3 linked regions of the Homo sapiens genome follow. The protein of the gene in region 1 interacts with the protein of each later gene in a pairwise test. Each region holds a gene or a part of one and is shown in the gene's direction. Other genes may lie near its edges.

What was found.
Region 2: the proteins of DNAJB6 (region 1) and KLF5 interact in binary tests that used the Homo sapiens proteins (3 or more experiments, as listed by UniProt).
Region 3: the proteins of DNAJB6 (region 1) and SCAPER interact in binary tests that used the Homo sapiens proteins (3 or more experiments, as listed by UniProt).

The regions. Positions count from the first base shown.
Region 1 is NC_000007.14:157,332,063-157,340,019, forward strand, and holds the start of DNAJB6 (dnaJ homolog subfamily B member 6), read left to right. Parts: upstream 1-4,941; 5' UTR 4,942-5,082; intron 5,083-5,491; exon of another isoform or gene 5,492-5,749; intron 5,750-7,957. UniProt on the Homo sapiens protein: Has a stimulatory effect on the ATPase activity of HSP70 in a dose-dependent and time-dependent manner and hence acts as a co-chaperone of HSP70. Plays an indispensable role in the organization of KRT8/KRT18 filaments.
Region 2 is NC_000013.11:73,054,295-73,062,007, forward strand, and holds the start of KLF5 (Krueppel-like factor 5), read left to right. Parts: upstream 1-4,710; 5' UTR 4,711-5,033; coding exon 5,034-5,294; intron 5,295-5,387; exon of another isoform or gene 5,388-5,506; coding exon of another isoform or gene 5,507-5,545; intron 5,546-7,566; coding exon 7,567-7,713. UniProt on the Homo sapiens protein: Transcription factor that binds to GC box promoter elements. Activates the transcription of these genes.
Region 3 is NC_000015.10:76,902,338-76,909,570, reverse strand, and holds the start of SCAPER (S phase cyclin A-associated protein in the endoplasmic reticulum), read left to right. Parts: upstream 1-4,230; 5' UTR 4,231-4,272; exon of another isoform or gene 4,273-4,367; coding exon of another isoform or gene 4,368-4,378; intron 4,379-4,779; exon of another isoform or gene 4,780-4,823; coding exon of another isoform or gene 4,824-4,957; intron 4,958-7,233. UniProt on the Homo sapiens protein: CCNA2/CDK2 regulatory protein that transiently maintains CCNA2 in the cytoplasm.

The DNA.
Region 1 (7,957 bases):
ATGTGTGTGAGATACCACAGTTCTCATACACTGCCCTGTTTATTTCTGATACCAGTATAGTAGCTATCCGTAGCTATCCTTCTTCCTATTTTACAGATAGGGAAACCGAGGCTTGTTGATGTGGGTAAAGTCAGTGCGTCATCAGCCCTAAAGTTTTATTGGGCATCAGGGGATGTGGGCACCACAGGGAACCATGCCTCGCACCCCTGTGGCCACTCAGCCTCCAGTCTGGCCCCAGTCAGCACTGGGTCCTCTTCCCTCTGCCCTGCAGCCTCTGTGCTTGCTGGCCCATGAAGCTTCTCGGTCCACTTTTGGCCTTGAACATTTCAGCTGCCCTCAACCCCCGGGGCTCCCTGCAAGCCATTACCCCAAATCCATCCACATTCTCCACGCTCCTCCTTTCTTTCTTTTATTTTTTGAGACGGAGTTTCACTCCTGTTGCCCAGGCTGGAGTGCAATGGCACGATATCATCTCACCGTGACCTCCACCTCCTAGGTTCAAGTGATCCTCCTGCCTCGGCCTCCCGAGTAGCTGGGATTACAGGTATGCGCCACCACGCCCGGCTACTTTTTGTATTTTTAGTAGAGACCAGGTTTCACCATGTTGACCAGGCTGGTCTTGAACTCCTGACCTCAGGGGATCTGCCCACCTCGGCCTCCCAAAGTGCTGGGATTATAGGCGTGAGCCACCGCACTCGGTCTCCAAAGACTTTTCACTCCTACTTAAATCTTTTCTGGGATAAATCCTTGTCATTGAAAGACCTCGTTGTTTCAAAAGAGTTAATTAAATATTACCATTTAATCTCCAAGGTGTTTATACCTGTCCTCCCTAACTGCTATGTGAAGTCCATCAGGATGGGGACCTTGTTTTGTACTGGTTGCTTTTCTTCATGATAAAATTTATTGTATTGACATGCTTCTTAAAAATTATGTATGTATTTGTTTAGAGACAGAGTCTTGCTCTGGCACCCAGGCTGCAGTGCCATGACATGATCACTGTTCACTGCAGCCTCGACCTCCTAGTCTCAAGTGCTCAAGTGGTCCTCTTACTCAGCCTCTTGAGTAGCTGGGACTATAGGTGTGTGCCACCATGCCCAGAAAATTTTCTTTTTTCTTTTTTTTTCCTGAGACAGAGTCTTGCTTTGTCACCCAGGCTAGAGTGCAGAAGCACGATCTCTGCTCACTGCAACCTCTGCCTCCCGGGTTCAAGCAATTCTCCTGCCTCAGCCTCCTGTGTAGCTGGGAATATAGGCATGTGCCACGACACCGGGCTAATTTTTTGTACTTTTAGTAGACATGGGGTTTCGCCATGTTGGCCAGGCTGGTCTCGAACTCCTGACCTTGTAATCTGCCCACCTCAGCCTCCCAAAGAGCTGGGATTATAGGCGTGAGCCACTGTGCCTGGTCATAATTTTCTATGTATTTATTTTTGAGACAGGGTCTGTGTTGCCTAGACTGGAGTACAGTGGTGCTCTACTGAAGCCTGGACCTCCCTGGGCTGAGGTGATTCTCCCACCTCAGCCGCCTGAGTGGTTGGGACTATAGGTGTGTGCCACCGCACTTGGCTAATTTTGCTATATTTTGTACAGATGGGGTTTCACCAAGTTGCCCAGGCTGCTGTCGAACTCTTGAGCTCAAGCAATCTTCTCGCCTCGGCCTCCCAAAGTGCCAGAAAAAAATAATTTATTTTTGGTAGAAATGGGGTCTTGCGGTGTTACCTAGGCTGGTCTGGAATTCCTAGGTTCAAGCAATCCTCCTGCCTCAGCTTCCCAAAGTGCTGGGATTACAGGTGTGCACCACTGTGACCAGCCTGATACGCGTTTTAATGTGTGTGTGTGTGTGTATATATATATACACACACACACATACACACACATATATTTTCTTTTTCGAAGGGGGAAAAGCTATTTGTGGCTAGCCTACCACTTACAATGTAAAATTCATGTCTGTGCTGCTTACATTTCAAGATGAGCTCACAATCACTGTAGGGACGTATTGACATGTAAAATGTCCCATGATAGTACTGTCTGTCCACACTGAGATGGAACTAAACCTCCATCAATCTGCAAGCAGATAGGTTACATGTGACAGTGCCAAGCTGTGCACATATCTGAAATTCCAGTCTTTGCTGAGATTATTTTAGGTTTTATTATGAGATGCCCATACTAACACAAACTATTATTTCTTCCTTTTGAACAGTCATTTATATAACCAGTAAAAAAAGAGAATAGAGGCTGGGCTTGGTGGCTCATGCCTGTAATCCCAGCACTTTGGGAGGCTGAGGTGGGTGGATCACCTAAGGTCAGGAGTTTGAGACCAGCCTGGCCAACATTGTGAAACCGCATCTCAACTAAAAATACAAAAAATTAGGCATGCATGGTTGCTCATGCCTGTAATTCCAGCTACTCAGGAAGCTGAGACAAGAGAATCACTTAAACCTGGGAGGTGGAGGTTGCAGTGACCCTAGATTGTGCCACTGCACTCCAGCCTGGAGGACAGACAGAGAGACTCAGTCTCAAATAAGAATAGAGAATCCAGTCAGATTTTCCTTTGCTAACTGATCATTTGCTAGAAATGACATGCAGTAATACAATTAAAGTTTAAGAAACACAAAAAATGAGCCCAGCACAGCGGCTCATGCTGGTAATCCCAGCACTTTGGGAGGCTGAGGCAGGAGGACTGCTTGAGCCCAGGAGGTTAAGGCTGCAGTGAGCCATGATTGAACCACTGCACTCCAGCCTGGGTGACAGAGCAAGACCCTGTCTCAAAAAAAAAAAAAAAAAAAAAAAAAAAAGGGCAGTATTTCATTTTGAAGTATAACAATTACAGCCATTAACCAAGTGTTCCAGTTGTCTAAAATGAGGCAGGTGTAGACGGAAAATTTTCCCTGTACTCTCTGAAGGTTTCACAACTGAGTCTCTGAACTAAGCTGACAATAGACAGATTCGTAAGAGAAAAAGTATACAAATCTATAACATGTACTAGGGCATCCCAGAATCCAGTGAGATCTGGAAGCTTATACAGCCCCTTCATAGAAGAGAGGGGAGGCAGATGCAGGCAGCTCAGGGGAGAGAAAATGATTTTTTGCCTTCAGAATAGGTGGTGGCCTGTGGCAAAATCTGTCTGGGTGTGCAGCTGACGTCCCTTGAAGCTCTTCTCCCGTGATCCTGGCTCATTCTTCCCTGGATGAGACTTCCAGGGAGGGGGTCAAGACAATTGAGTCCCTTTGGGATGATCTGTCTTTATGTAAATAATGGGGGATTCACAGAATGCCCCTCCCTGCATTGGCAGGTCCCCATGTGCCCTCAGTTTGAGGGCATACTAATGTGGTAATCAGTGAACTAGTTAGTAATCAGTATCCTAATATGGCATAATTCAGGGTGGCATTTCTCCAACTCTTTCATTACTAACGAGCTATTTTAAACCAAAAGTGATTCAAGTGTTAAAGTGCCTTTTACTTGAATATCTCCCAGGCTTAAACGATCACGAATTCATAAGCGTTGTTAGTTCAGAAGGTGGCTGAGCAGGCCCCCGGAATTCAGTGTCAGCATGCCACAGGATCTGAAGTTCAGGAAAGGTGTAACAAAAAGGGATTTTTCTTTTTTCTTGAGACAGAGTTTCGCTCTTGTTGCCCAGGCTGGAGTGCAATGGTGTGATCTCCGCTCACTGCAACCTCCTCCTCCTGGGTTCAAGCGATTATTCTGCCTCAGCCTCTGCAGTAGATGGGATTACAGGCATGCACCACCACACCTGGCTAATTTTTTTTGCATTTTTAGTAGAGACGGGGTTTCTCCATGTGTCAGGCTGGTCTCGAACTCCCAACCTCAGGTGATCCGCCCGCCTTGGCCTCCCAAAGTGTTGGGATTACAGGCGTGAGCCACCGCACCCAGTTGAGATTTTTATTTCTTAAAGGAAAGGATAAGGTGGGCCAGGACTAAGACAACACAGTAGCAAACATCTGGCTGAATGCTGGAGAGGAAGACAGTGGGAGATCCAGGCCAGGCTCCATGGACGAACTGCTTGTTGGCTCCTTAGGCTTTGGGTCTGCGGGACCCTTTCGCTACTGGGAATGGGAGCCTGTCTGACTGCACTGGGTCTGAGACTCCCTGCTCCTGCTGGTCACCATCTACACGCATGTGGTGTTGGTCTCCAGGGTTAGAACCAGAACCCCTGAGGACGCGGGAAAGGCTAGGAAGCCTGGGGATGACCTAAAGTCCAGCTATCAAAATGCGCCGCGTTTTCAGAAAAACTACTGCCACGATTTAACCTAAAAAGCTTCATCTGTATTTTCTGCCACAGTTTGCTTCCGTTTCCTTCAGTCACTATTCCCTGGCGAAGTCTCCACGCGCTCCCGTTCGCCGGGGAACTTAGGGTATCCGGGCTTCCCTAAATTGACAAGCGGGGGCCGGCGCCTTCGCCCGCCTTCGCTGGCCGCCGCTTGGTTTGTTCTTCTTCTCCTTCGGGGACTTCTCCGCCCGCGCCCGCGCCCGCGCCCCAGCTTTCGTCCCGCTGTGCGGAGATGCCACCCAGCTCCACCGCAGGACCGCGGAGCGAGAGGCGGCAGACGCGCTCCGGGGGCCGCCGGTCAAGAGGAAGATGAAGGGCGCGACGACTTCGCGGTTTCCAGAATGGGCTCCTTCTGGCCCAACAATAAGTGCCATTTGGAATCTTCTCGGCCTTCTCTGTGCCTTCCGCGCGTCTGGGCTCCCCGGTACCGTAGACCCGGCCCCGAGCTCCGCCCCCTCGCCCTGGGCTTCCCCGCCCCCTCGCCCCCAGTCTCCTGGGCTCTTCGGGGCGGCGGAAGAGCCGAGAACCTTCGCGAAGGTGGGGCGGGCGCCCCCGAGGTTGGGCCCGCGGTATGGGCAGTGGAAACTGCGCATGCGCGGCGTCAGGGTCGGGCGGAAGTTGACGCCGCCGTGCCGCCGCCGCGTGACGCATTTCCTGTTTGTTGTTGGAGAAAGGAGAGAAAGGAAAGCGCGAGGAGCCGCCGCCACCACCAGCGCAGCAGTCCTGGAGCTGTGAGGAGATTCGGGCCGTCACCCTGCCTCCCCTGCGTCCCGCCACCGGCCGCTTCTGTCCTCGGTGAGGGTCTGTTCCGAGGGTCGGGGGAGGTCGCCTAGGGCCCCGCGCGCGCCCGGCAGACGGCGGACCTCACCCGGCGCCTGGCAACAGCGCGGGGGGTGACCGGGGTCGCCGGCCGGGGAAAGGACTGGACGGGGCGGGGGCCGTGGCCGGGGTTGCGGGGCGAAGGGTGGGCGGGGTCCTCTGGGTCAGGTCTGGGGCCGGGGCCGGGGCTGGGGTCTGGGGCCGCCCGGCCGCGTCCTCCCCGCCCGGCGTCCTTGCCGGAACGCGGCCCAGCCTCCGCGGCGGCGGTTGGGGGTGGGGCCCGGCCTGGGAGCGGCCGGCTGGGGCTCGGCTGGGGCTCGGCGGGGCCGGCAGCGTGGGAGGCGTGGAGCGCCTTCTTTTTCTAAGGCTCCCGCACTCGCGTCTGAAACCAGAAACGGGAGTGGCTTGCGGAGCAGGAATGCCGCAGCCGTGCCGCCAAGTTCGGAGGGAGAAGAAGCAGGTGGGGGACCGCAAAGCCCTGTTTCTAGAACTCCGGACGGATTGTTCAGAAGTTTGTGGAAGAGCAGGCTGCCTTTCTCACTCAGAATGTTTGTCTGCTTTGCTTTGCGTTAAAGAATCTGCACCGTAGTTGATGCAACTGAAGTTTATATAAGAAGTTTACATTAACTCTTACCTAAGGAAGGTCAGTGACACACGCAGTGTAAACTGCAAATCATATATTGGCTCGAGAAAGGTTTTGGCACTAGCGAATTTTTTAAAGGATGGGTTTGCTAGTCAGACGTAAACTTCTGTGCTAACTTCTCACGTAAACGGGGCAGGAAACAGCGCAAGTAGAACGATCGTGCCACCACCGAAGGGGTGCCGCCTGCGAGCTCGGAGGCTTCAGCCTGTTTGGGAAGAGTAGGCTGAGCGGCGCTCTTTGTAGTTTTCAACGTTTTTATTGAGTTGCGAATTTTAGTAAGGATTTGTCGCTACAATTTAAGCCAAATTATTGATTTAGTAGAAAAGTTAGAGTGAAGACCGAAGAAAGGAAACAGACGTTAACCATTAAAGCTTGATTGCTGCTGCTTCGTGTTTAACCGCACTTTTCCAAATAGTGTTGCGTATCAGAACGATTCATGATTTCTGAAAGGAATTATATGCAGCCGCCTTACTCCTCCGCCAGTCCACCCGTCCCGCGTTCTCTCTGGGTTTACTCCAGACTTCCTTTTTTTTTTTTTCCTGAGACGGAGTCTGTTCTGTTGCCCAGGCCAGAGTGCAGTGGCGCGATCTCCACTCACTGCAACTTCCAGCTCCCAGGTTCAAGCGAGTCTCCTGCCTCAGCCTCCTGAGTAGCTGGGGTTACGGGTGCTCGCCACCATGTCCGACTAATTTTTGTATTTTTAGTAGAGACGGGGGTTTCACCGTGTTGGTCAGGCTGGTCTCGAACTTATGACCTAAAGTGATCGCCTGCCTCGGCCTCCCAAAGTGTTGGGATTAGAGGCGCGAGCCACCGCGCCTCGCCGACTCCAGACTTGTTTCCACTCCTGAGGGCCTTAAGCTCCCTTGGAGTTTGTGCTTTCACATTTCTTTCTGCCTTCCGTGATAAAGGGATGAATAGTTTTTATGCACGCTTCAGCGAGCTGCGGGTTTTTGTGGATTACGCAGGCTGTGAAATTTGGGAAGTAAGTTGCCTTAAGTTGGTAGATGTGGAGATTTGACAGGAAGTGGGAGAACAAAGGGGTTGGGAAGCTTTTGGAAAGTGTCCAGGCTTCATCTGTGCTGTGGAAGGTGAGAAAGTTGGGAATTCCAGAGGGCAGAGCTCTTAAAGAATTTGAGATGAGTTCAGCACTCTCTTCAAAACAGTGTTTTAAAATTTATTTTCTTCTGGATATGAAAGTGTTAGGTTTGGGAAGTAATTCTGGCTGTAGGACAGTTTTTCCGGAACACTAGGTGGGGAGTGTTGAATGTTGTGAAGACTAAAATATGCATATGGTATTACAGTGTGATACCTGTTACTGAGTGGCGTACATTAGCTTTCATTTTTAAGCAAGCCCGTAATTCCCTTCTATTAACTCTGTTTTGGACAGTGGTACCCGTCACCCTCATCAGTCTTCAACCTAGATAACCTAAATCCAGGTCTGAGGTGGGGGTGGAATGGTCTGTTTGCACCTTTTTTTTTTTTTTTTTTTTTTTTTTTTTTGAGACGGAGTCTTGCTCTGTCGCCCAGGCCGTAATTAATGCGGTGGCGCGATCTCGGCTCACTGCAAGCTCCACCTCCCGGGGTCACACCATTCTCCTGCCTCAGCCTCCCGAGTAGCTGGGACTTCAAGCTTCCGCCACCACAGCCGGCTAATTTTTTTGTATTTTTTTAGTAGAGACGGGGTTTCACCGTGTTAGCCAGGATGGTCTTGATCTCCTGACCTCGTGATCCGCCTCCTCGGCCTCCCAAAGTGCTGGGATTACAGGCATGAGCCACCGCGCCCGGCCTTTTGTGTGTGTGTGTGTGTGTGTGTGTGTGTGTGTGTGTGTGTGTGTGAGATGGAGTTTAGCTCTTGCCCCTGCTGGAGTATAATGGCACCATCTTGGCTCACTGCAACTTCGCCTCCCAGGTTCAAGCGATTCTCCTGCCTCAGCCTCCCGAGTAGCTGGGATTACAGGCATGCGCCACCACGCCCAGCTAATTTTTTCTATTTTTATTAGAGACGAGGTTTCACTATGTTGTTCAGGCTGGTCTCGAACTCCTGACCTCAGGTGATCCACCCGCCTCGGCTTCGCAAAGTGCTGGATTACAGGTGTGAGCCCGCGCGTCCGGCTGTCACTTTAAAGAGTATTATAAGAGGGCACTTCATAACTTGGGCAGGTATTTTTAGTCATCCTGAACGTGTCGCTGTGGACTGGGTGTCACCGC
Region 2 (7,713 bases), on another chromosome or scaffold:
TGAACTCCTGGGCTCAAGTAATCCTCCTGCCTCAGCCTTCCAAGTAGCTGGGACTACCGGCATACATCACCATGCCTGGTTAATATTAAACATTTTTGTAGAGATAGGGTCTCACTATGTTGCTCAAGCTGGTCTCCAGCTCCTGGCCTCAAGCAATCCTCCCATCTTAGTCTCCCAAAGGGCTGGGATTATAGGTGTGAGCCACCATGCCTGGCCCAATTTTATATATAAAGATATATGTGTGTGTGTATATATATATATATATGTGTATATATATGTGTGTGTGTGTATATATATACACATACACCTTTCCTAGAAGAGGAATTATCTATCATTTTCAAAGTTATTTACATTTTAGCCTTTTTCATACTTATTGTCAAATTGTCCTTCCCCAAAGTTTTAAAGTTTACACAACCATCAACAGTGTATGGAAGTTAAGGCATGAAGAACTCACATTGCTTTTAGCACTACTTTTACACACTTCATCTATAAATCAACATCTAAAAGAGTATTTCCGTGTGACCCATGCACGGTTCATTTGAGCATTCACAGGGTGTTCCCCACAGCCTGGTACATTACAGCTTTTGTCATAACATGAACAGCAATCGGCTCAAAACACTGCCCATTGTGATGCTGATGATGAGACCTCCCTAATGTTCTAAAAGATTGTTTGGTGTAACCACTTTAGCTCAGACCTTTCTTTTAACCTTGCCTATCATGTTTCGAGTCAGAATTTAAATACTGTGCAGTTTAAGCTACAATACGCTTGGCCTATAACTTGGTTCCAGGCATTTATATTTATGTCACTTTTGTCTACTTATTATACTAACAAGGTGGAAAAAGCAATCCCAGTCTCTCCAAAAGGTAAAACTCTCCTGTTTTTTTGGATATTATTAGAGTTTTAAAATTAGGCTAGATAAATTATAGTACCCTTAGGAATAAGTGCATAAAGGGAGTTTTATGAAATATTTTAAGAAGAACACATTTAAAAATCCAAACTGAAATATAAAATGTAATTTCTTAAGAACTGGAGGCAAGAGACATTACAAAAATAAAATATTAAATTGTTGTCTTAAGACATAATTTTAATTAATATAAATAGAAGTATTTAGTCTTATTTAAACTGCATATTTTTTCATCACAAAAGCAATGAACAGAGCATCTTCTCTCTTGTCTCGTAATCTTTTGAGTCAAAATGCTTTAAATTCCAACTAATCTCAGTTGAAGCTTCTATTTATCAGGCTATTTCCTTAATGACTTTTTTTCTGATGTGTGGCTTTAGGTGGTTGCCATTAATGAAAAAATACAAAGACTACAGATGTGAAATGTTGGAGAGGACAATAATTACAATAGTTTTAAGTTTTCACTGATACAGATTCTAACAGGGGTGTGCAATCAATGACTACCAAAAAGTCACTTTAATTAAATAATCTTACCCTAGAGAAGAGTGTGCTCCCGTATAAAGCTTTATTTTTCATTTTTATTCTTGTTCTTTTTTCTGTGGCCCAAGATCACTTGGCAATTTGATACTGATTTGGCAGAAATAAATATTCTATGAATATTTTTCTACTCAAAGTGAATACAGTTTTGTTGGCTGTGATACTCTATACCTCTTAATTTCAAGCTGTGACGTTTTTGCCAAACAACTGAATTTAGATTTGCCAAACAACTGAATTTAGATATTCCTTTTGCCGTGTCGTTGTGTGAACATTGCCCTAGTGATAGCTTCATATTTCCCTCATCTCATCATTCAGAAGCTATTTATCTATTTTTTTCCACTGCCTCCTTCAAACCCCCTCCCCCAACATTGAATGCCTGTTCAGCCCCCGCATATTCATCCGTATTTATTCCCGTAAAGATAGTGACACTTATGGTTTATTCTAAGACTAAATCTGTGTTGCCCAGTGACTAAGGACTTAAGCATGCACACTGCTTCTATGCTTACCCTCCTACCTAACTTGACTACTCAACATTTTTATTTCATTCCCTCAGAATCCCCTGTTTTGGCACAGTTCAGTTAACACACCACTGCCAGGCCACTAATTGATTTCTGAAACCTGACATTTGTTTTTTGTTTTCTCCTATCTTCCCTAATGGTACAGCACTACTAAGCGGGAAGGAATGCAAAGAACTAGAAAGTTCAAAGTAATTGAGGATCTGTCCATTCACACTGTCTGGCTTCAAGCCAATGTAGAACCTGGAACATTTGAAAAATATTTATCAAGTTTTAACCCTTTTTACTAAGTCGGTGAAACAGGTTTGCAGCTGTAGCATTTATGTTAAAAGCAACAGCAAGGAAACTTGGTCGAACATGTTCTTTATATGTTCAGAATCACATGGCAAATGTCTCCGAAAAGGATTACTTTCCAATTTCCGTACTATTGTACAGTGCTAAGCTAGTTATTTTCTGTGAGACTGCAGAGCAGGGCATTTCAGAGAAACTATTACTTAAAAGTGGCAGCCCTATTTCATGAATCTTTATGCCCAAAATGGAATTTTAAAACCTGCTACTGTATTGGAGCAAAAAGGAATATATTCAGTTACTATAAGAACCCCAACGCTAGCTTCATATCTATATTATGAAAAGTGGAAATATGAAAAATTAACAAGACTAAAAATATTAAAAACTTAGTTGTATGGTTTTTTTTTTGCAATGAAAAAGCTTTTGTAAATGAAAGCATGTTAAAAAGTGGTGTGAAATTATAGAAGCATTTCCAGTAAAATACATGGATTTTATTGCAGTGAAAACTTAGGTTGAAAGACCGGGCCACTGAAGCTCTCGTAAAAAGACAAAAGGAAAGGTCTAGATAGGTTTAAAAGCACATTAAGATACAGCTACCGAATGTATTAAATCTAAGTTAGATTTAGCTTAAAGTTACAAGAGCACAAAAGTTCTATTAAGAATTATCTACATCACATTTAGGTTTGATGTTATCAGAATTAAGTAACTAAAAATCTTTCAAAGCTCAATTTTTTAAAAGAGTTACATTAAATCCCATCCTAATTCTATAATCTGTTTCTAAGCTAATTAATTACATGATAGGTTTTACATTAGAGAAAAGCAGGACAGCTTTTTAAAGATGAAGATGGACAGCATGGGGCTGCTTGGTTAGAGAAAAACTTGCAAAAGCACTTATTAAATAATACTTTGATAACATGAAAGTAGTCATCAGCCATTCTCTGAAGGCAGTGATCACAGCTATAAAAATGAATCATGTGTCAACAGGAAGAGAAGGAAAAGGAGAAAAACCCAGTTTACAGCATAATTTTATATTTTCTAATAATAAATACATTTCTTTATGTGCATATTAATTTTCTACCCATTGAAAATGAGATCCATACCTTTGATAGATACACTCTTTGAAGTGAACGTTTTTATCCAAGACTTTTTTTTAAAGCTGTTTTACTCTGAAGTGATGAATAGGCTGTGGTATATGTAAAACTGTCTAATGGTATATTGTGTGTCAACATATGTACATTTGTAGTAATATCACAGGCATTTTTATTGCAGTTTATTGTTCCGTCCTCCCAATAAGCCAGATAAAATCATGTACAAGAACATTAAGGATTAAGGGAAGTGGTTTCCTTAGGTGATTGCTGGCAAAAATTCACCCTCCCATTATAACAACATAGTAAATGGATGGTAATATATTTGGCTATTACTTTCCAACAAATTTGGATTCCCAGTTTTCAGAGCTGCTCTGTGTCTATGTTTGCGGCTTTTTGATTGTCTCTTCGTAGGAAAAGGTGCCACAATGTGAGGTAAATGTGCTAGGTTTCTGCTTTGTAAATATTAAAGTCCATTTTTTGAACATACAGTGCTAGCAAAAATAAGTCAAAGATGTAATGTCTATTTAAATACACGTTTGAGCTAGTCGTGCTTAAATTAGATTCCATGCTTCGGCTAGAATCAACACGGCTTAAATATTAGAAACTTCAAAATTCATATGGCCCAAGCCCTCCTCCCCACACACGGATGGGAAGTAGAAATGTGTGGGAAAACGTCTAGCAATTAAAATCCTGAAGGAGTGGGAAAAACCCAGGCTTTTATGCAAGGATCTGAAAAAACGCTTGCCATCAAATCTTTTATTCAGGCATTCTGAATTTGCCTTGTTAAACGGATACACTCACTGCTAAAGATACACAGGGACAAGAGCTGTTTTAAATTTGTTTATCACACCGCCCCTAGTTTTCTGCTAAAGAGAAGTACATTTTGGATATTTAAAAGTACACACTCATTAGACAAATCTCTAAAAGCCTCAGCGCCCCTACCTAGCTGCCTTCTGGGTTTCAGCTTTTGAGTTTCAGGTCCTTGCACAACACCTAAGACGTGCAATACTCTTTTTCTTCCTAATCCTGGCAGAGAACAGTGCGAAGAGATCTCCCTCCGCGTCTCCACCCTAATTCCCCCTCTTCCCAGATTCCACCCGCTCCGCTACTTCCCTCCGCCCCCGGCTCCGCCAGCCCAATCTGTCAGAGAAGTTGTGTACAAACTGCGCGGCCGCCCTGCGCGCGAAGCTCGTGGCCCGAGAGGGGTGCGGTCGGGCCGACGGAGGCGGGGCCCTGGCTGCCTCTCTCCCTGCTCATAGGCTGGCCGCTCAGGCCTGGCCGGCCTCGGGGCCTCGGGATTCGCGGCGGCGCTGCCAATCAGGCGATCGGGCCCCGCCCCCCCGGAGTTGGGTGAAATAGAGGCGGGCGTCAAGTGTCAGTAGTCGCGGGGCAGGTACGTGCGCTCGCGGTTCTCTCGCGGAGGTCGGCGGTGGCGGGAGCGGGCTCCGGAGAGCCTGAGAGCACGGTGGGGCGGGGCGGGAGAAAGTGGCCGCCCGGAGGACGTTGGCGTTTACGTGTGGAAGAGCGGAAGAGTTTTGCTTTTCGTGCGCGCCTTCGAAAACTGCCTGCCGCTGTCTGAGGAGTCCACCCGAAACCTCCCCTCCTCCGCCGGCAGCCCCGCGCTGAGCTCGCCGACCCAAGCCAGCGTGGGCGAGGTGGGAAGTGCGCCCGACCCGCGCCTGGAGCTGCGCCCCCGAGTGCCCATGGCTACAAGGGTGCTGAGCATGAGCGCCCGCCTGGGACCCGTGCCCCAGCCGCCGGCGCCGCAGGACGAGCCGGTGTTCGCGCAGCTCAAGCCGGTGCTGGGCGCCGCGAATCCGGCCCGCGACGCGGCGCTCTTCCCCGGCGAGGAGCTGAAGCACGCGCACCACCGCCCGCAGGCGCAGCCCGCGCCCGCGCAGGCCCCGCAGCCGGCCCAGCCGCCCGCCACCGGCCCGCGGCTGCCTCCAGAGGACCTGGTCCAGGTAGGAAGAGCCGCTCCCCTCCCACCGCAGCACTCCCGGGCTCGGGCGTGTCCCGTTGCTGCGACTCGCGGGCGACAGGGGCCGCTCCAGGCTGGGGCGTGCGTCGGGGCGCACCGGAGCCGGTGCTGGGTGGGCAGCCCCGCCCTGCACGCCTGGCCGGGGCCCCGCGTTTCGCTGAGAGTAAATGGGGGGGGGGGCCGGGGGTGGGAAGGATGGAGGGGAATCTGCCCCGGCGGGTCGGCCTGGGAGAGGTAAGAGGGAGGGAACTGGGTGCTCACGCGCACCTTAGTTGTTTTTCTTACACTTGAGGGACGAAACCTTGTACCTTACGCTCAGTTTTACTTAAATTACGCCTTCGCCTGTACCGCTCTCCAATGCCAAGGCATTGGAGCCCTCCCCCCCATCCCCATCGTCTCGGGTTAAGTAGAAACGCAAATTGGGGTGCTGGGGAGAGGTTCCCCAAGGTTTCATACCCGGTGGCTCAACCTGCTTTAGAAGCGATTGCGGGCCGCGTTTGGAAAATGAGAGTTAGGAAAGCTAAGGTTGTGTCGGAGCGCTTATTTTTCCTTAAAAAAAAAAAAAAAAAAAAAAGACCGGGGGTGTTGTTTTCTTCGTGTGCACGTAAATTTCCTCCCGGAGCCGCGTTGAAAGCTGGCAGTTGGCTTTTACACTTGCCCAGCAGCCGAATTAGAGCAACCGCCTGTTTCTTTCGCCCACGCAGGGAGTCATATAGCCCAGAAAAAACTTCCCGGGACTTTTAGCCTGTCCCAAGGAAAAAAAAATTGGAAACATACCCACATGCAAACAGCTGGAAGAGCTAAAATCAGAAACCACTAACCGCCGCGGGAGCGCAGTGCACGAAAGGGTTTAGTTCAGTTTATTTCAAGACACTTCATTTAGTAGCTCTTTGGCGTGTCGTATATTTGCTACCCAGCGCCTACTCCGTGGGGTCTGCCAGGGTCTTGCTGTGAGAGGGCAGTGGCGTTTGTCAGAGATGTGACTCACATGATGAGAGCGTTAATTTTTATTTTTAAATCATGTCTATCCGGGAAACCCCGTCCGCATCCACACCAAGGTCCGAGATGAAACGCATTTGAAATGAAGTAGTAGCAGAAAATGACTGTCTTATTTACCTGTTAAGGTGCCACAGCTAATATATGCGCCATTCCATCTAGTTGGTTTTCTTATCTTTCGAAATTTCCTTTTCAGTGTTAAAAAATGTAGGCTTAAGTTATACTAGGAGAGAAGATAGCTGGAAAAGGCTTGAGGCGACTTGTTACAAGCTGGTTTATAGCCTAGAAAAGAGATCACCGTTTGAAAAGTATTTGGTTATTTCAGTTTGTCAATTTTCTGCTCTGGAGGCACTAAGAAGATAAGGGATGACTGAGCTTTTTACAGAGTAGGGGGGAATGTAGCATTGGCCCACTGAGAAGGACATGATAAATGTTTTGCTGATGACTGTGCTAGGGATACAGCAGCCTCCCCACCCACGGGCTCCTTAGCAGCACTCTACCAAGGGAGTGATTTTCCCCTAGGTAATTAAAGATCTGTTTTAGATAGGGATATGAATAGGAACATTTCATTATCATATTAACCAATTACAGGATCTGCTGATGAAAATCAACATTTAGATCAAATATTGAATGTGAAATTGTTTTGTTTCAGTGGATACAAGGTTTTGCTTAGAACGTTGTGTTTAATTTCTCATTGAACTGTAAACAAGAAAAGACACTGAAATAGCCAAATAATATTTTTATATTACTTTTGAAGTATCTAGTCAAGAAAAGAAACCTGTGCAATATTTTAAAGGTTTGCATCGTTTTTTCTATTAAAAAAAACCACGCTTTTTAATGTTTGTGACTTAAACAGAATTGAGGTAGTTTGGCAACATTTCAATACTGTACTCTAATTGCAAACTTAACTGTGTAATGGGGCAGGGAATCCTGCTTGTACAGGGGTGATGGTACCTTGTTATTGCATCAGAATGGAATGTTTTAAGTTTGCTTTCTTTTTTATTCTTGATTTGCGTCTTTCACTTTTGGGGGTGATTGGGGGAGCAGTTTTACCAGTTACACAGAGTTTCATAAGGTTTTGGTCAACCAGTTATTACACAATCGACAAAATAAGCCTGATATGTTTATAAGCAACACTGAGGAGTTTGCCCTAGTACCTTACACAGGGATTGGGGGAATTTTTAGTAGGCGCCGATTGTTCGTTCTTCCCGAGATGGTGAATCAGGTGGATTATGCATTTTATATCTCTTCTTTTTTAGACAAGATGTGAAATGGAGAAGTATCTGACACCTCAGCTTCCTCCAGTTCCTATAATTCCAGAGCATAAAAAGTATAGACGAGACAGTGCCTCAGTCGTAGACCAGTTCTTCACTGACACTGAAGGGTTACCTTACAGTATCAACATG
Region 3 (7,233 bases), on another chromosome or scaffold:
TCTCCCTAGACATGTGGGGATTATGGGGATTATAATTTAAGATGATATTTGGGTGGGGACACAGTCAAACCATATAAAATGCTACATATCCACTGGGGATCAGCTGCAGTTCTGCTCCATGTCATCTCTAGTATGGAACTTATGCTGATGGAATAGCTTCTCTCTAAAACAAATTGCTTGTGGCAGACAGAAAAGAGACATGATGAACGCACAAGCTAGCTCTTATAAATTCTGCTTGGAACTGACATTCCTGCTTACATTTTATTGGCTGAAGCAAGTTACCTATCTGCCATCAGTGGGGCCAAGGCAGCAGCACATCACGGAGGGGAACCAGACTGTTTGGCATATCATTAATAGGAATAGATTTTGTGGCAAAAGAAAATGAGTGGTAACCTGATTAAAAAATTGGCAAAGGATTTCAATAGACATTTATCTAATACCATACATAAATGGCCAATAAGCACATGAAACTATGCTATCAGGGAAGTCCAGATCAAAACTACAATGAGATACCACTTCACATCCACTCAGATGGTTGTAATAAAAAAGACAGACAATGGTAAGTGCTGGAAAAGATGTGGAGAAACTGGAACCCTTATATGCTGCTGGTGGGAGTATAAAATGGTGTAGCTGGTTTGGTAAATCATCTAGCAGATCCAGAAAAATTTAAAAATACAGTTACTATGTAGCCCAGCAATTCTACTCCTAGGAATATACCCAAAATAAATGAAAATATATATCCCCACAAAAACTTGTAAATGAATGCGCATAGCAGCATTGTTCATAATAGTCAAAAAGTGGAAATAGTCTGTATGTCCTTCCACTGATGGATAAATAAAAGGTGATTATATATTCTATACAATGGACTATTATTCAGCCTTAAAAAGGAATGAAGCGTTGATGCATGCTACAACGTGGACATACCTTTTTTTTTTTTTTTGAGATGGAGTTTCACTCTGTCACCCAGGCTGGAGTGCAGTGGAGCGATCTTGGCTCACTGCAAGCTCCACCTTCTGGGTTCACACCATTCTCCTGCCTCAGCCTCCCCAGTAGCTGGGACTACAGGCGCCCACGACCACGCCCAGCTAATTTGTTCTATTTTTTAGTCTAGACGGGGTTTCACCTTGTTAGCTAGGATGGTCTCGATCTGCTGACCTTGTGATCCGCCTGCCTTGGCCTCCCAAAGTGCTGGGATTACAGGCGTGAGCCACCGCGCCCAGAAACATACCTCGAATATATGCAAAGTGAAAGAAGCCAGTTACAAAATACCACATCTCATGACTCCCTTTATACAAGGTGTCCGGAGTAGGCAAATCTATGCATAGAGAAAGTAGATTAGTGGTTGCCTATGGCTGAGAGAATTGAGGGAAAATGGAGAAGTGAGTACTGGGTTCCTTTCCGGGGTAAAGAAAATGCAGTGATGATTGTACAATTGTGTGAATATCCTAAAAACCACTGATTTGTATGTAGGTTACATCTCAATAAAGCTGTTTTATATGTATATAAGAAAGATGAATCATTTTTATTTTTGTCATATTTATTTTTATTAATTCAAGTGGAGATGACCAGTAGGTAGTTAACAATGTGGCCTGGATCCCAGGAGTAGGAATCAGGGCTGGGGATATATATTCGGAAATCCAGAGCATAAAGATGCTAACCAAAGTTATGTAAAAGGCAGTGGTCATGTAGAGAGTGTGTCCAGTGGGAAAAGAGTGAAGGCTTATACCTATTCCTGTGGGATAACAATATTTAAAGGCTGGGAGAAATAAGAGAGACTTTAAAAGAGATGGAGAGGGAGTGGTTAGAGATGGAGAAGTGCTACCAAGAGAGTAAAAATGAAAGGCAAGGAAAAGTATTTCCAGAAGGAAGGAGGGTCATGAAGAGAAATTAAGTTAGGTAATGATGATAATGTCCATAAGATATATAGTAGGGAAATCCCTAGTGACTTTTTTTTTTTTTTTGAGACAGAGTCTCGCTCTGTCGCCAGGCTTGAGTGCAGTGGCATGATCTGTGCTCACTGCAACCTCCGTCTCCCTGGTTCAGCGATTCTCCTGCCTCAGACTCCTGAGTAGCTGGGATTACAGGCACATGCCACCACGCCCAGCTAATTTTTGTTATTTTTAGTAGAGATGGGGTTTCACCATGTTGGTCAGGATGGTCTCGATCTCGATCTCCTGACCTCGTGATCTGCCTGCCTCGGCCTCCCAAAGTGCTGGGATTACAGGCGGGAGCCACCAGCCCAGCCCAACTTTTTTTTTTTTTTTTTTTTTAATTGAGATGGAGTCTCGCACTGTCACCCAGGCTGGAGTGCAGTGGCATGATCTCAGCTCACTGCAAACCTCTGCTATCCAGGTTCAAGGGATTCTCGTGCCTCAGCCTCCCGAGTAGCTGGGACTATAGGTGTGCGCCACCGCACCCGGCTATTTTTTTTTTTTTTTTTTTTGTATTTTTGGTAAAGACAGGGTTTCGCCATTTTGGCCAGGGTGGTCTTGAACTCCTGACCTCAGGTGATCCACCTGCCTCAGCCTCCCAAAGTGCTGGGATTACAGGCGCGAGCCACGGCGGCTGGCCCCTAGTGATGTTGGAAAGAATGGTTTCAGTGGGGTGGTGGGGCAGAAACCAGAGTGCAGTAAGTCCAGACTTGAGTAGTGGTTGAGGAATTGGAGGCACTCTTGTTTAGATAATTGGAGAAATGTATTATAGGAAAGAAAGCAGAGGTTGAAGTGGAGTCTGGTAGGTTCGGCGGGAGATTTCAAGATGGGAGAGACTTCAGGTTGTTTACATGCTTATGAGTATGAAAGGAAGTGGGGATAATTAAGAAATGAGGCCCTGACCGCCTTTTATAGAATTGTAGTATGCTCCCTACTCTATCCCCCTTATCCTACTCATTTTGTTAACTGTAGTGCTTATCATGTTATATAATTTACTTATTTATTGTGTTTACTATTTCTTGTGTTAAAAGCAAAATATTAGCCAAATTAAACAGAGTTTGAGCAAAGAATTATTCCCGAATCAGGCAGCCTCCTGAGCCAGAGTAGGTTCATACAGACTCCCGCAGAGCCACATGGTGGAAAAAGGTTTATAGACAGAGAAAGAAAAGTGAGGTAGGGAAACAGCCAGAATGGTTATAGCTAGACGTTTACCTTATTTGAACACGGTTTGAACAGTTGGCCGTCTTTGGCCAAAACTTGGTGATTGGCGCAAGAGTAGGTTGCAGTGTATTTACACCTCCATTTAGGTTATAGTTTACTATTTACGGAGAAACCTTCAGGCTGAACTTAAAATATGTAAGGACACAGCTTTTGGCTAAACTTGATGTAACACTTGCCTGGTTTCACCCTGCTCCAAGAAGCCGGAGGTTTTTTAGAGATTTCTGTTTATTTTGCTCACGTATTAACTCCAAGCATCTAGAATACCATCTGATATATAGTATGTGGTCAATAAACATTTGCTGAATAAATGAAAAAGCGAGTTTTCTAAGAAGGCAAGAGAGAAGGGGAGCCAGAACATAGCCATATGGTTCCTGCCCCCACAACGCTTGTGAGTCCAGGACTTCCCGCCTACTGCGGGTGGGGAGGGAGAGGGAAGGGTAAAGAGCTGTTTCCCAGCTGGATGAAAAGGGACGGTGAATATTCGTTTGATAATTACAGTCTGCATTGAATCTTTTTTCTATTTTGTTCAGACTGATTTAAACGTTAAAGTATTTAATTCATCATATGTTTGTCTTTGAAGTAGATGAAACGTATTTGTTAGGTCTCTGTACTTCGACCTTCCAAGCCTGGCACACAGAAGGGCCCTGATAAAGCTTCTCGGAGGCCTAGTTGTGTTCAGCGCAGCCCAGCGTGCTCCTGTCAAGTGCTTTCGCCAGCACAGATTTCTGTGAGGCGCGTCTCTAAGTCCTTAATCTGTGGATTGACTGTGGTGATAAGGCAGGAGGAGGGAAGAGATTGAGTACGAGAAAGACCTGTGTGGCCAAAAGCGGCGGTGTAAGCTTAACCTAGGAAAAGAAACAGCTTCGGAAACGCCGCGCCGGGACATCGAACCAAATCAACCCTCACACCTCCCGCCTGGGCGCCCCAACGGCGCGAACGGGCGTGCGCCTGCGCGCGGACAACACAGATCTTGCAGCCGGGAGCGGCGCGGCAGCGGCTGAGATCACGTGGTGCGCCGGGAAGCCACCCCGCCTCTCCGAGGCCTCCCTGCCCCGCCCCGTCACGCCCCTTTCCCGGCGGGACGCTTTGAGCCGCCCCGAACTAAGCAGGGCGGTCGGGGGTGAGTGTCCGCGAGGGGCGTGCGTAGCGCAGACCCGGGCGGGTCCGGGTTGGGGCGCGGGCCGTCTGAATGCCTTGCGGGGACCAGGGGACAAAATGGCGGCGGGGTACGCCCTTTCACCCCCTCCCCTCACCTGGGAGTGCGAGTTGAGCGGGGCAGGGATCGTTGCTGGGGGAGGGGAGCCGCGGTCGCCTGGGGAGGGCTCGGAGGTCGGCCTCGGAGGCCTCGGGACGGGGGCTGGGGTGAGCCGCGTCCGGGCCCTGCCCTGCGGGCTCATCTGGGGTGTGAGGGACGTGAGACCCCGCACACTACGCGGTCTGAGGGGTGAGTGGGGGGCTGCCGCGTCACCTCACTTGGGGGCAGCCCCGGCCGCGGGTGACGAGGCTTCTGGAATGTCTAAATGCGAGGGGCCCCTGGAGGAGCCTCCCTTCGTTTGACAGGTGATCGTCTTCGTCATCTGTCATTCCCAGCGGGGTTTACCATGCTTTCCCTGTACTCTGATCTTAGCTCTGCCCAGGAAACGGGGCAGGAATGGCCTCTCCGTCTTCCAGATGCGTGCGCTGAGGCCTGGAGGGGCGAAGAGCCTCTCGCACCTGGGAGTAGTGGGACCCAGCCTCCTGCCTCTGTTGCTGCTCTTTTCCAAAACAGCACTTCCTTGGCGCCTTTCCTCTACACCGTTTTCCAGGCGCGTTCGTGGGAACGGCACCAGGGAGGAACGGGATTGTTAGAAAGCAGGCACAAAACTGGTCCTGTAAGCAACACCTGCTGCTGTTAAGGGGGCCCCAGCTGAGATGAGGCCGCCTGTTTGTGAGCAGCTTCCTGTTGCTGGTGGACTGCATCTCTTATTCTAGTTGTGACAAGTTATTTTCCATGAAAATAGCTATTCATTAATAGTCATTTTACCGAACAGATACTAATTCCTTATATGAATTATAGTTTGTCTTAGTTTATGGATTAATTTCATCATTAACTTTTCATCTTCATAAATAATCTGGTAGAAGGATGGATGGGCTAGGAGTAATACTTATTTTATGAATGGAGAAACGGGGGCTCAAAAGGTTATTACTTGCCTTAGATCACCAGCTGGTGAGTGGTAAATCTGGGGTTAAGTTTTCTGACCTAAGGTTGGTAGTCTGACCACTGTCCCACTCTGGCCTATACTGGTGCTCTTTCCCTTCTGTTATTTCTGTTAACTATGACTTTTCCTCAAAGTTTGTTGGTTGCAGATGATTTATGCCACTTGAAGAATGATATCCACTAAAGAATTAATATTTTTAATCAATCAAAGAGTCAAGTTTTAATGTGATTTGGAAGGTTGTCTGTGGGAGAAGTAATCTGATGGCTTTGAAGGCAGACTGTTTTGAGTTTGAATCTCAGCCCCAACCCTTGTTTTTGGCAAATTAATTTTTCTGAGCCTTTCTTATCTGTAAAGTAGGAATAATATCCACCTCATAATTTTGTTGATAGTAATAAATTAGGTGTCTGTAAAGTATTGAGAACTGTTCCTAGCCCATGGTAAGCCCTCAACAAATGCTCTTTTCCTTCTTTCTCCACACTCCCTTGAGCTGCATTAAAAATATACTCTATGTGTCTTTGGTCCATTTGGGTCTGGTATAGCAAAATACCTCAGACTGAGTGGCTTATAAACAACAGAAATTCATTTCTTGCAGTTTTGGAGGCTGGGAAGTCCTAGATCAAGATGTCTGATGATTCAGTGTTTGGTGATAGCCTGCTTTCTGGTTAATAGATGGCACCCTCTAGCTGTCTCCTTACATGGTGCAAGGGTGAAGGGGTCTCTCTCTGGCCTCTTATAAGGGAATTTATCCCATTCATTAAGGTTCTGCTTTCATAATACAGTCATCTCCCAAAGGCCCCACCTCCTGATATGACCTTGGAAACTAGGATTTCCACAAGAATTTTGAAGAACACAAACATGCAGACCATAGCATTATGGTTAATCACTTGGTTGTTCAGGTCAAATAACCATGGAAGTGTAATCAGCAGTACTGTACAAATGTGTTTATAAATAAATTTTGGTGACTGGTCCAAAGGATATAGTATTCTAAACAGACTTTAAAAATGTTTGCCATTGGTGCTTCATAGGTATTTTAAGAACTCCTAAAAGATTGATATTAAGGTCATTAATGTCTTCATTTAGCTGCAGGAATGTTTTAAAGATAAGTAAGATGAAGGGACTTGAGATTCTGTCATTTCTTTCACTTTCTTTTTTTTTTTTTTGAAACCGAGTCTCACTCTGTCACCCAGGCTGGAGTGCAGTGGCGCAATCTTGGCTCACTGCAAACTCCACCTCCCAAGTTCAAGCGATTTTCCTGCCTCAGCTTCCTGAGTAGCTGGAACTACAGGCACTCACCACCATGCCTGGCTAATTTTTTTTTGTATTTTTAGTAGAGACCGGGTTTCACCATGTTGGCCATGCTGGTCTCAAACTCCTGACCTCAGATGATCCACCCACCTCGGCCTCCCAAAGTGCTGGGATTACAGGCGTGCGCCACTGCACCTGGCCTCTTTCACTTTCATACCTGACCACAGCCCAGACTAGTTTTAAAGGATAAACAACTTCTTTGGGAATCACATGTGAATGTTATTTAAACACTTAGAAAGTGGGGGTATTATTTAGGGGGAAGTTTAATAGAATTCTCTGTAAGGGTACAATCTGATATCCATTGTGGAATTGGCATTTCTGAAATTGTAGAAGAGAAAACTGTAAATGGCTGGCATAGCAAAAATTAAATCATTAATAAAATTCTGTTTGCAGTTTCTGCTGGATGGTAACCTTTTTTTAAAAAAAAATTCAACTTATATAGTAGAGGGTACATGTGTAGATTTGTTACATGGGTAAATTGATGCCGATGCTTGGGGTCCCAATTATCCCATCACACAGGCCATAAGCATAGTACACAACAGGTGGTCTTTCAGCCCATGCTCCCCTTGGCCTAGTGA